Linked DNA regions of Homo sapiens: region 2 is linked to region 1. Evidence: fine-mapped expression QTL. Tissue or cell type: monocytes. Region 1 holds a variant in brackets; the other region holds the start of a gene. All regions are shown on one strand. Distances are from middle to middle.

Region 1 (4,399 bases):
ATAACAGAGACATTGAATATTGATTTTAAAAAAATAGACACAAAGATTGGGAAAATTGGGCATTGCTTGTGTGTGAGGCAAGTAATGTAAAAGTAATAAATCTTAATAGATGAAGCCCAAACTGAACAATTAATAAATACCATTCTAAACATGATATTTAGCAATATGAAAGTACACACTAGAAGAAAGTCTTGTACTAGCTGTACTTTTTTTTTTAAGAGATGAGGTCTGTCACCCAGGCTGGAGTGCAATGGACTAATCATCATCCACTGCAGCCTTGGCCTCCTGGAATCAAGCAATCCTCCCACCTCAGCCTCCCGAGTAGCTGAGCCTATAGGTGTGCACCACCACAGCCACCTAATTTTTAAAATTTATTTTTATATATGTACTTTTTTTAGAGGTGGAGTCTGCCTATGTTGCCCAGGCTGGTCTCAAACTCCTGGCCTCAAGCAGTGCTCCTGCCTCAGCCTCCCAAAGTGCTGGGGTTACAGGCGTGTGCCTGTGCACAGCTAGTACTTCTTATTTCTTTTTTTTTTTTTTTTTTTTTGAGACTTCAAGTGATCCGCCCATCTTGGCCTCCCAAAGTGCTGCCCTGGACCTGATTATTGTTATTATTAATTAAAAGTGCATTTGTAATGGCTATGTGCCAGGTATGATGCCAAATGCTTGGAGGTTGAATTATTCTTGCTTTTGTAATCCGGCGAAGATGAACACGTAAACAAATAGTGACAATTATGCTTGATTAGTGCTATGTTGTAGGTAAGGTCAGGATCCTATAGCGGAACAAAGAAAGGGCAACTCATCCAGTCTTGGGAAGTTCAGGAAGACTTCCCAGAGGAAGGGGTTTCTAAGACAAAACCTGAAGGATGGCATAATGCTCCAGCAGAAAGAACAGTAGGTGCAAATATTCACATGCATGTTTAGGGAATAGAGGGCATTTAGTGTGCTAAAGTTTATCATGCTGCGAAGGAAGAGTGGCAAGATATGAGGCTGAAAGAGGCTGTTGAAGCTGAACACGGTGGCTCATGCCTGTAATTCCAGCACTTTGGGAGGCCAAGATGGGAGGATCACTTTAGCCCAAGAGTTCAGTAACAGCCTGGGCAACATGGTGAAACCCCATCTGTACCAAAAAACAAACAAACAAACAAACAAAACTAGCCAGGCGTGGTGGCATGCACCTGTAGTCCCAGCTACCCAAGAGGCTGAGGTGGGAGGATCGCTTGAGCCCAGGAGGCAGAGGTTGCAGTGAGCCAAGATCACGCCACTGCACTCCAGCCTGGGCAACACAGCCGGAATGTGTCTCAAACAAACCAACAAACAAACAAACAAACAAAAAACAAAAAAACGCTATCAAGATTTGGGAACTAACTTTGTAAATTTCAAGGAACAAGAGTCTAGGTCCACTTCAAGTCCAGATTTCTTATGAACTATTTTACATATAGCCCATCAAAACACTGCTTCACCATTATGCCAAATGAAACAAGCCAGACACAGGACAAATATTGCATGATTCCATTTCTATAAAAGACCTAGAATAGTCAAATTCGTATTGAGACAGAAAATAGAATAGTGGTCACCAGAGGCTTTGGGAGAGTGGGAAATATAGAGTTATTGTTTAAGGGGCACAGAGTTTCAGTTTTGCAAGAAGAAAATGTTCTGGGGATGAATAGTTGTGATGGTTACACAACAATGTGAATGTACTTAAATGCCACTGAACTGTACACTTGAAAATGATTAAAATGGTCAATTTTATGTTACACACATTTTAGCATAATAAAACAAAAAAAAATTTAGGCCAGGCGCAGTGGCTCACACCTGTAATCCCAGCACTGTGGGAGGCCAAGGTGGGAGGATCACGAGGTCAAGAGAT[C/T]GACACCATCCTGGCCAACATGGTGAAACCCCATCTCTACTAAAAATACAAAAATTAGCTGGGCGTGGTGGCATGCGCCTGTAGTCCCAGCTACTTGGGAGGCTGAGGCATGAGAATTGCTTGAACCCAGGAGGCAGAGGTTGCGGTGAGCTGAGATTGGGCCACTGTGCTCCAGCCTGGTGACAGAGCGAGACTCCGTCTCAAAAAAAAAAAAACTTTAAGCACTGCTTCATTTAAATTTCACTTAAAATGTACCCTTCTCTTAAAATCCCATAATAATTATTCTTTTTTTTCTTTTTTGGTAGGATGTGTCACAGCTCCACTGGCATGCAGTCTCCCTCATTGTGATAAATCAATGAATGTAACTTGTTGGATTATAAGGTTGTTCCTGGTGGTTTTGGCTGGTTGGTTGAGGACAGTGGTAAACAAGTAGCAAAGACAATATTGCCGCAGGGGGAAATGCTGGCATCAGTGCTGCTATCTAGCAAATGAGTCTTGGGCTCAATGTAGTTGGAAGTTGGCTCTTAGACTTGCACATTAACTTGGGGATCCAGGAATAAGGCTAACGTAGACTCAAGTCCATAATGACCCTGGGACCTGGTAGAAGTAAATTCAATACTTCTGGCCAAAAGCATCCACAGCGTGGGCCCCCAAGATTCCCACAGATAAACATCAACCAAATATGAGCTCACAATGAAGATTTTCAAACACTCAAGAAAAAAGTCAACCATAGTGCAAATCAGTAGGATATTGATACTGAAATTATCAAGTATAGTTTACAAAATAATGTCTGAAATGTTTAAAGAAATAAGCAATGAAATAATCTAAACAATAAGATATTCTCAAAATATTTGCCTTCTATTCCTTGAACAAATATATAAACATTTGCACATATAGTGCTCTTTCTGCTGGAACATTATGCCATCCTTCATTTTACTTGTTTACTAGTTTATTGTCTGTCTCGCACCCCCATGACCCCCAGGAATGTAAATTACACAAGGGCTGGGGTTATTTTCTGGTATGTTCACTGCTTTATCTCTAGCATTTAGAACAGTGCCTGGCACAATACATAAATATTTGTTGACCAAAAGGACTCACTGTGGAATTCAATGTTCAACTTACCTTCAGATTTTCTTTGCTGCTCCTTCAGAAAATGAGGAGCATCTTCTCTGGTTACAGACTTGGAAATGTTCAGTTCTAAACAAGATCTTGGTAGCAAAAAGCCCAAGTTCACATTGCAGAGCTCCCTGGAACTTTCCTCTTTTTGCAAAACTAAGGGCCGCATGGTCAGCTTCTTTTTCCTGAGCTCCACCGTTTCTATTTCATTTGGATGAGAAACTGCATGTGCTTGTGCCCATTCTTGAAGCGATGAGTTTATCAGACTAAAGGGGGAGGGAAATGTTTGATTTAAAACTCAGTTGCCACATCTTCTGGATCTCCAGTCCTCAGTTCAGCCTGACATCACTAGAAAGTTTGAAGAACTACTTCCAAATGGTGCTGCTGAAAGGAAAGGCTGAATCCTGAGAGGGTAAGACATCTCCACCTGCTGACTCCTCCTGGCCTCCTTAGCCCTCTGTACCATCGCTTGGATGGATTAGGTTTCAGCTCACTCTCGTTTTCCCAATCACCATTTCCTTGCACAGAGAAATCAGAGACCAAGGGCAGGCCTGGGGGATGTACCCTTTTATCTCCACAGGTACTGACTAGCCCAGTGTTTCTCAAACTATTTTTGATGAAGAACCAGCATTTAAATTTCCAGTCATTGTGAACTGATACTTTTGTAAAATATAAATGAATTGCCATAAAAATGGAAGAAAAATAAAAGACATGCAAAAAATAAGCCTCAATTTGTTTCACTACCCGATCAATGAACGTAAGTTATTTGCCAAATTGCTTTGCAACTTTTTTAATGGTCACCCTCGCAGCCTGTCCTGACCTCATCATGGACTAGTAACAGGACCACAGAACCACATTCTAAGTAGCTCTGCCCTGCAGTAGGGTCAGCAAACTACAGCCCGGGGACCAAATCCAGCCTTCAGCCTTTTTCTGTAGCTTTAATTGGATCACAGCCACACTCATTTGTTTACATATTGTCTATGGCTGCATTCAAATGACAGTTGCAGAGTTGAATCATCACAACAGAGACCATATGGCCCACACAGCCAAAGTGTTTATGATCTGGCCTCTGCCACATACTATTTATTGTGACCTCTACTTTTAAGCATTATTATGGATTCAATTACTAATAATGTAGGTTGCCATATGACTATCATTGCTTCATACTTCATTTCAAATCTGATACTTCAAAGAATATTCCTTACTTCTTTTCTTTTAAGTCTTCTTGGCTCATTTCTTGGGGAGGACTGACATCTCTTGGAAAAGTTACAGTGATCTCAACACCTGTAGAAACATACCACAGTAGTAGAAGGAAGAAAGTAATGAATTCCAGCGGAAAGCGGGAGACGTACTTTATTTCTGTTTGGCTAATCTCTTCTTAATGATTACAAAATGGACATTAATCAGGAGCTG
Region 2 (4,399 bases), 160 kb before region 1:
GGTTTAAATCTATTATTTATTATATCTGTGGACTCCTGCTCATAGTGACTTTTTTCCTCATGTGTGTAGAATTTTTTTATTGTGAGACAATACTTTGTTGGGGGTGCTTAATCTGTGGCAATACTGAGGAGACAGAATTGGGATGTTTTTCTTCAGGGAGGATTTACATTTCCTTTTTCTGGTCAAAAGTAGTACTAGGGTTTGGATGTAATTTCTCCCTACCAAAACATGTTAACATATAATTGCCAATGTAGCAGCATTGGGAGGTGGTGTTTTTAAGAGGTGATTAGGCTGTTAAGATGGGTTTTTCACAAGCCTGGTTTAGTTCTTGAGGTTGGATTAATTCTCATAGAAATAGATTAGTTCTTCCAAGAGTGGGTTGTTATAAAACTCATTAGCCTCCTTTGTCCTGTCCCTCTTTGCACACATCTGCATACCTTTCTGCTTTTCTACCATGTTGTACCTCAGCATGTGGCCCTCACCAGAAGCCAAACAGCTCCTGGTGCAATGTTCTTGGACTTTCCAGCCAGCAGAACTGTGAGCCAAATGAGTTTCTTTTCTTTATAAATTATCCAGACTCAGGTATTCTATTAAAGCAACACTAAATTGACTAAGACAGGGTGGGAGGAAGTAGGTGAGTGGTACTTTAACTAAAATCTTAGTGGGTGACCTTGAATAGTAATTCTCAAAGAAATTCTCAGAGAAAATTGTTATTTCTTCTCTTTTTTTCCCCTCATAGTGAAGACAGGTTTCATTACAGACTCCCTCTTTTTGGCCAATGGATTTTTTTCCTAGACTACTTTTTCCCTGAGGGTCTAGATCCTTCAAGACTTTTAGTGTAATGAGGGCATTTCAGTTTTGTACAAGCCCATATTATTATCTCCCATTCCCTTGTGGGATATTAACCCTGAAATCTCTAGGAGTCTGAAGCCACATTTTCTGGATTCTAATTCCAGTTCTCCCACACACTATTGTGTAACCATGAACAAGGTACTTCTCCGTGCTTCAGTTTCCTCTTCTATAAAATGAATATTGGTCCTAGTTCTTCCCCCACAGGAATGTTATGAGTAATAAGTGAACCGACTTTATTAAAATTCATGGACCAGTGCCTGGCCCATTGGGAGTGCTCTAAAAATGCTTGCACTTACTTACTCAGTATTAGCAAGTGCCTCCATGTTAGTTTAAGGCTTACTCATTCAGTTTTAGCTCACTGAACTTCTAAAAAAATGGATTTCAAGGATTTCCTTTATTTTCTTTCAAGCTGTCTGTTATAATTTATCCAGAATCTAGCTGAATTACAGAAGGAAGCTTTTTGACTACTCAATTTATGTGTTGTGGAGTCTGAGCTGAAGGCAGCAACCAAGGCAGGTTTAAGGGTTTGCCAGGGGACCTGGGGTCCCTTGAACATTTTAAGCTGTTCAGGAAGAGGAAAGGGTAAACACAGAACAATCAAGGGCTGTTTTGTTCCAGGCTCTCTTTAGAGGCATGACCATATAAGCCCCACTTTCTGCTATATTGGAAGCCCTCCCTGACTGCTCTGATAATGCTAAATGGAAATGGCTACTATCTTCTTTTCCCTACACTTTAGGATATGTATCATCTTTCTCTCAGTCAACCTTACATCGTCAGCATATAGCAGTTCTCCATAAATGTTTGTTAAATGCATGAATGAAGCTGGGTGCAGTGGCTCTCGCCTGTAATCCCAGCACTTTGGGAGGCAAAGGTGGGTGGATTGCTTGAGCCCAGGAATTCCATACCAGCCTGGGCAATATAGTGAGACCGCATCTCAAATTAAAAAACAAAAAAAAAAGGAAAAAAATGCATGAATGAATGAGTCCAAGACAAAGGCACTGGAGGAAAAAACATATATGAAGAGTGGACTCTTTCTGTGATTTAAAATGTGAAACCTCCCCATAACTTTTCAACACGTTAAATTTTCATGAACAAGACAACTGTTAAATATTATTTAAAGATATGGGAGTAACTAACTGAACAAAAAGCAAAATCATAAAAACTGGCTGCTTCTGAATAGTGCAAGGAAAAGTAAGAAAAGGTGAGTCAGGGATCTATCCTTTTTCTGTAAAAGCCCTCTGCATGGTTTTATTTTTAACTACAAACTATTTAATTATTAACTATGTACAACTAAGTTAAAATATTTAAAATGAAAAATCAGTCAATTTTTGACCTGCTGTAAGTCAAAGCATCCTGCTGTGCTTTTGACCTCATACAGTTGAGTACAGTTGTTTTTTTGTTTTTGTTTTTGTTTTTGTTTTTTTAAGTTTTGTGCCAAGAGTCCTGACTACCAAACTGTGTTGACCCAAAGCTTGATTAACAAATAAAGCTTGGTTAACCAAAGCTTGGTTAACAAATAAACAGAACTTTGAACTTTAATAAAGCAGTTCTAATGGACCTAGACTGGGTTGGGCAGGCCTACTGACTGCTGCCTGAAGGTTGCTGTAAAGGGACTAAGTAAATCAATTAACTCCACAGTTTTCACAAAGGTCTCTTGATATCAAAACTTCTTTCCTTGCATGCTTCTCTGATCCTGTGGAGATGAAAATTGACATCCATAGTCATATTCTACCAAAAGAATGGCCAGATCTAAAAAAGGTAATGGTAATTAATTTGCTGAATTATTTCTGAAACTTCTCCAGGGTTTCTCAATGCCTTTCTCTTCTTTGTGGAATTAGATGTCTAGTTTATCTGCTTTGGTGGGGGGCGAGGGGGTTAAATCATTTGGTAGTTCTGATTTTCTAGCTTTTAAAAATGACTTTTATATTTATTTTGAAATAACATTGGATTAAAGAAATAAGTGCTTTCTCAGAAACCCTTTTTTCCCTCAAATGAACCATTCTTTAAAATATCTGGACAATTTAAATAAGGCAGATTTACCTTTTCAAAAATCACATATTCAGCTGCTGGGAAGATACATGCCAACTACAGAATTTAAAGTTACAATTTTAAGTAGAAGACCATTAAAAATGGAATGTGATCGGTTTCAAGGACTTCTAAAATATATCTCCTTTCCAAAATGTTTAAAATAAGTTTTAGAAGCACCAAGAGATAGCTTTGTGAATTTTTTTAGTCTATTTTAGGACACTGCCTGAAACCTTTACTGTTTGATGTTCTTTATTCTATAAATCTTTGTCCTGAAGAACTAGGAAGTAGGTACATCAAAAAACCCGAGAATAAATGACATGAAGCTTTTGCACAGTGACATCTCCTAAGAGAGTATTCTTTGTGTTTCTCTAAAGATGGAAATTTCCTTTTGTCATTAAGAACTTTTGAATGAATATAAAAAGAGGAAGGTGAGGAACATGAAAGAAATGTAAAATTGGCTAGAGGTTTGTTCAGGCTTAATATCAGGTTTTACCCAATCTTCAGCATTCTGCCAGTACTTTCACACCACCGATAATGTTTCAACTTTTTTATCCCAAGTGAGGGAAAATGAATTAACCCAAACTTGAATTAAATGTGGTTCATTGTGCAAATAGATGAAACTATTTTCTTCTCATAGTTGTCTCATTGAAGAATGTTTATCTTAAGTATTTCTTTGTCCATTGGTATCTTAGGTAAGAGGGGTGGTAGAAACTGTGGATTGAAAAACAAAATCTTTGAAAGCCTATCCTATGCACAGCTAACGATAAAAGATAAACCTCTCAACCTGCTCTTCCTAAAAGGACTCTACATGTTTACACAGGAACATGCTGTTCTGAGTGCTGTTGTCCTCATCATAGTTTACTGAAGTGTAAACCACTTCACAATGTTAATGATTTCATGAAGGGAATGCACCAGTTACTTTGTGGGAGTGCATCTGCCTTGTTTAGAAGCTGCATGCAGTTTCTTACATCTTATGGCGCCCACCACTTTCTACCCCTCATTTATGAGTATTTGCCTGATGAATGATGCAATGAACACATTGACTAACTTGTGATACAGGTAATGGAAGCAATAGATTATACTCCCTAATCTGAGAGTTTTAGAAAAATCCAAATTTTAGTATTTGGTATTTTAAAATAGCCATAAACTATACCTAGCAAAAAAAAAAAAAAAAAAAAAAAAAACCACTAATTCCTCTGTTACAGCTTTTTTCTCTATTTGAGTATGAAAGAATATCCACATGAAATGCTTTGGAAACCACCACGGTGGTCTCTAGAGGACAACGCCCCCCTGTACTATCCCACTGAGAAAGCTAGCTAGCATGATCGACCCTCCAAGCAGGGCTCCAAGCTCCAGGGCATACACCTCCTTGTGCAGACAGGATTTTGAGGCTTAGAGAGAGCTACAGTCTGAATGTGTATGTCCCCCCCAAAATTCAGGTGAAACCCTCATCCACAAGGCAATGGTATTAGGAGATGCAGCCTTCTGGAGGTGATTAGGTAATGAGAGCAGAGCCCTC

Alleles and levels. Positions count from the first base shown, and alleles are read on the strand shown. Sizes are in standard deviations (SD) of each study's normalised expression.
With allele C in place of T in region 1, the expression in monocytes of the gene that starts at base 2,487 in region 2 is higher (large effect, 0.75 SD a copy in Quach 2016).

What was found. PIP is the estimated chance that this variant, and not a neighbour inherited with it, causes the effect.
Region 2: ACMSD starts here. The variant in region 1 is the best candidate, but not a certain one, in a credible set for the expression of ACMSD in monocytes (Quach 2016, PIP 0.88).

The regions. Positions count from the first base shown.
Region 1 is chr2:134,995,746-135,000,144 of GRCh38, forward strand. It overlaps MAP3K19 (mitogen-activated protein kinase kinase kinase 19), which reads right to left. Exons shown (of 13, transcript NM_025052.5): 7 at 4,192-4,270; 8 at 2,993-3,252. Among named protein-coding and RNA genes, the nearest start is that of MAP3K19, 50 kb to the right of the region's middle. The variant C/T (reference allele first, on the strand shown) is at 1,871.
Region 2 is chr2:134,836,130-134,840,528 of GRCh38, forward strand. ACMSD (aminocarboxymuconate semialdehyde decarboxylase) reads left to right here and starts at 2,487. Exons shown (of 10, transcript NM_138326.3): 1 at 2,487-2,610. The coding sequence starts at 2,554.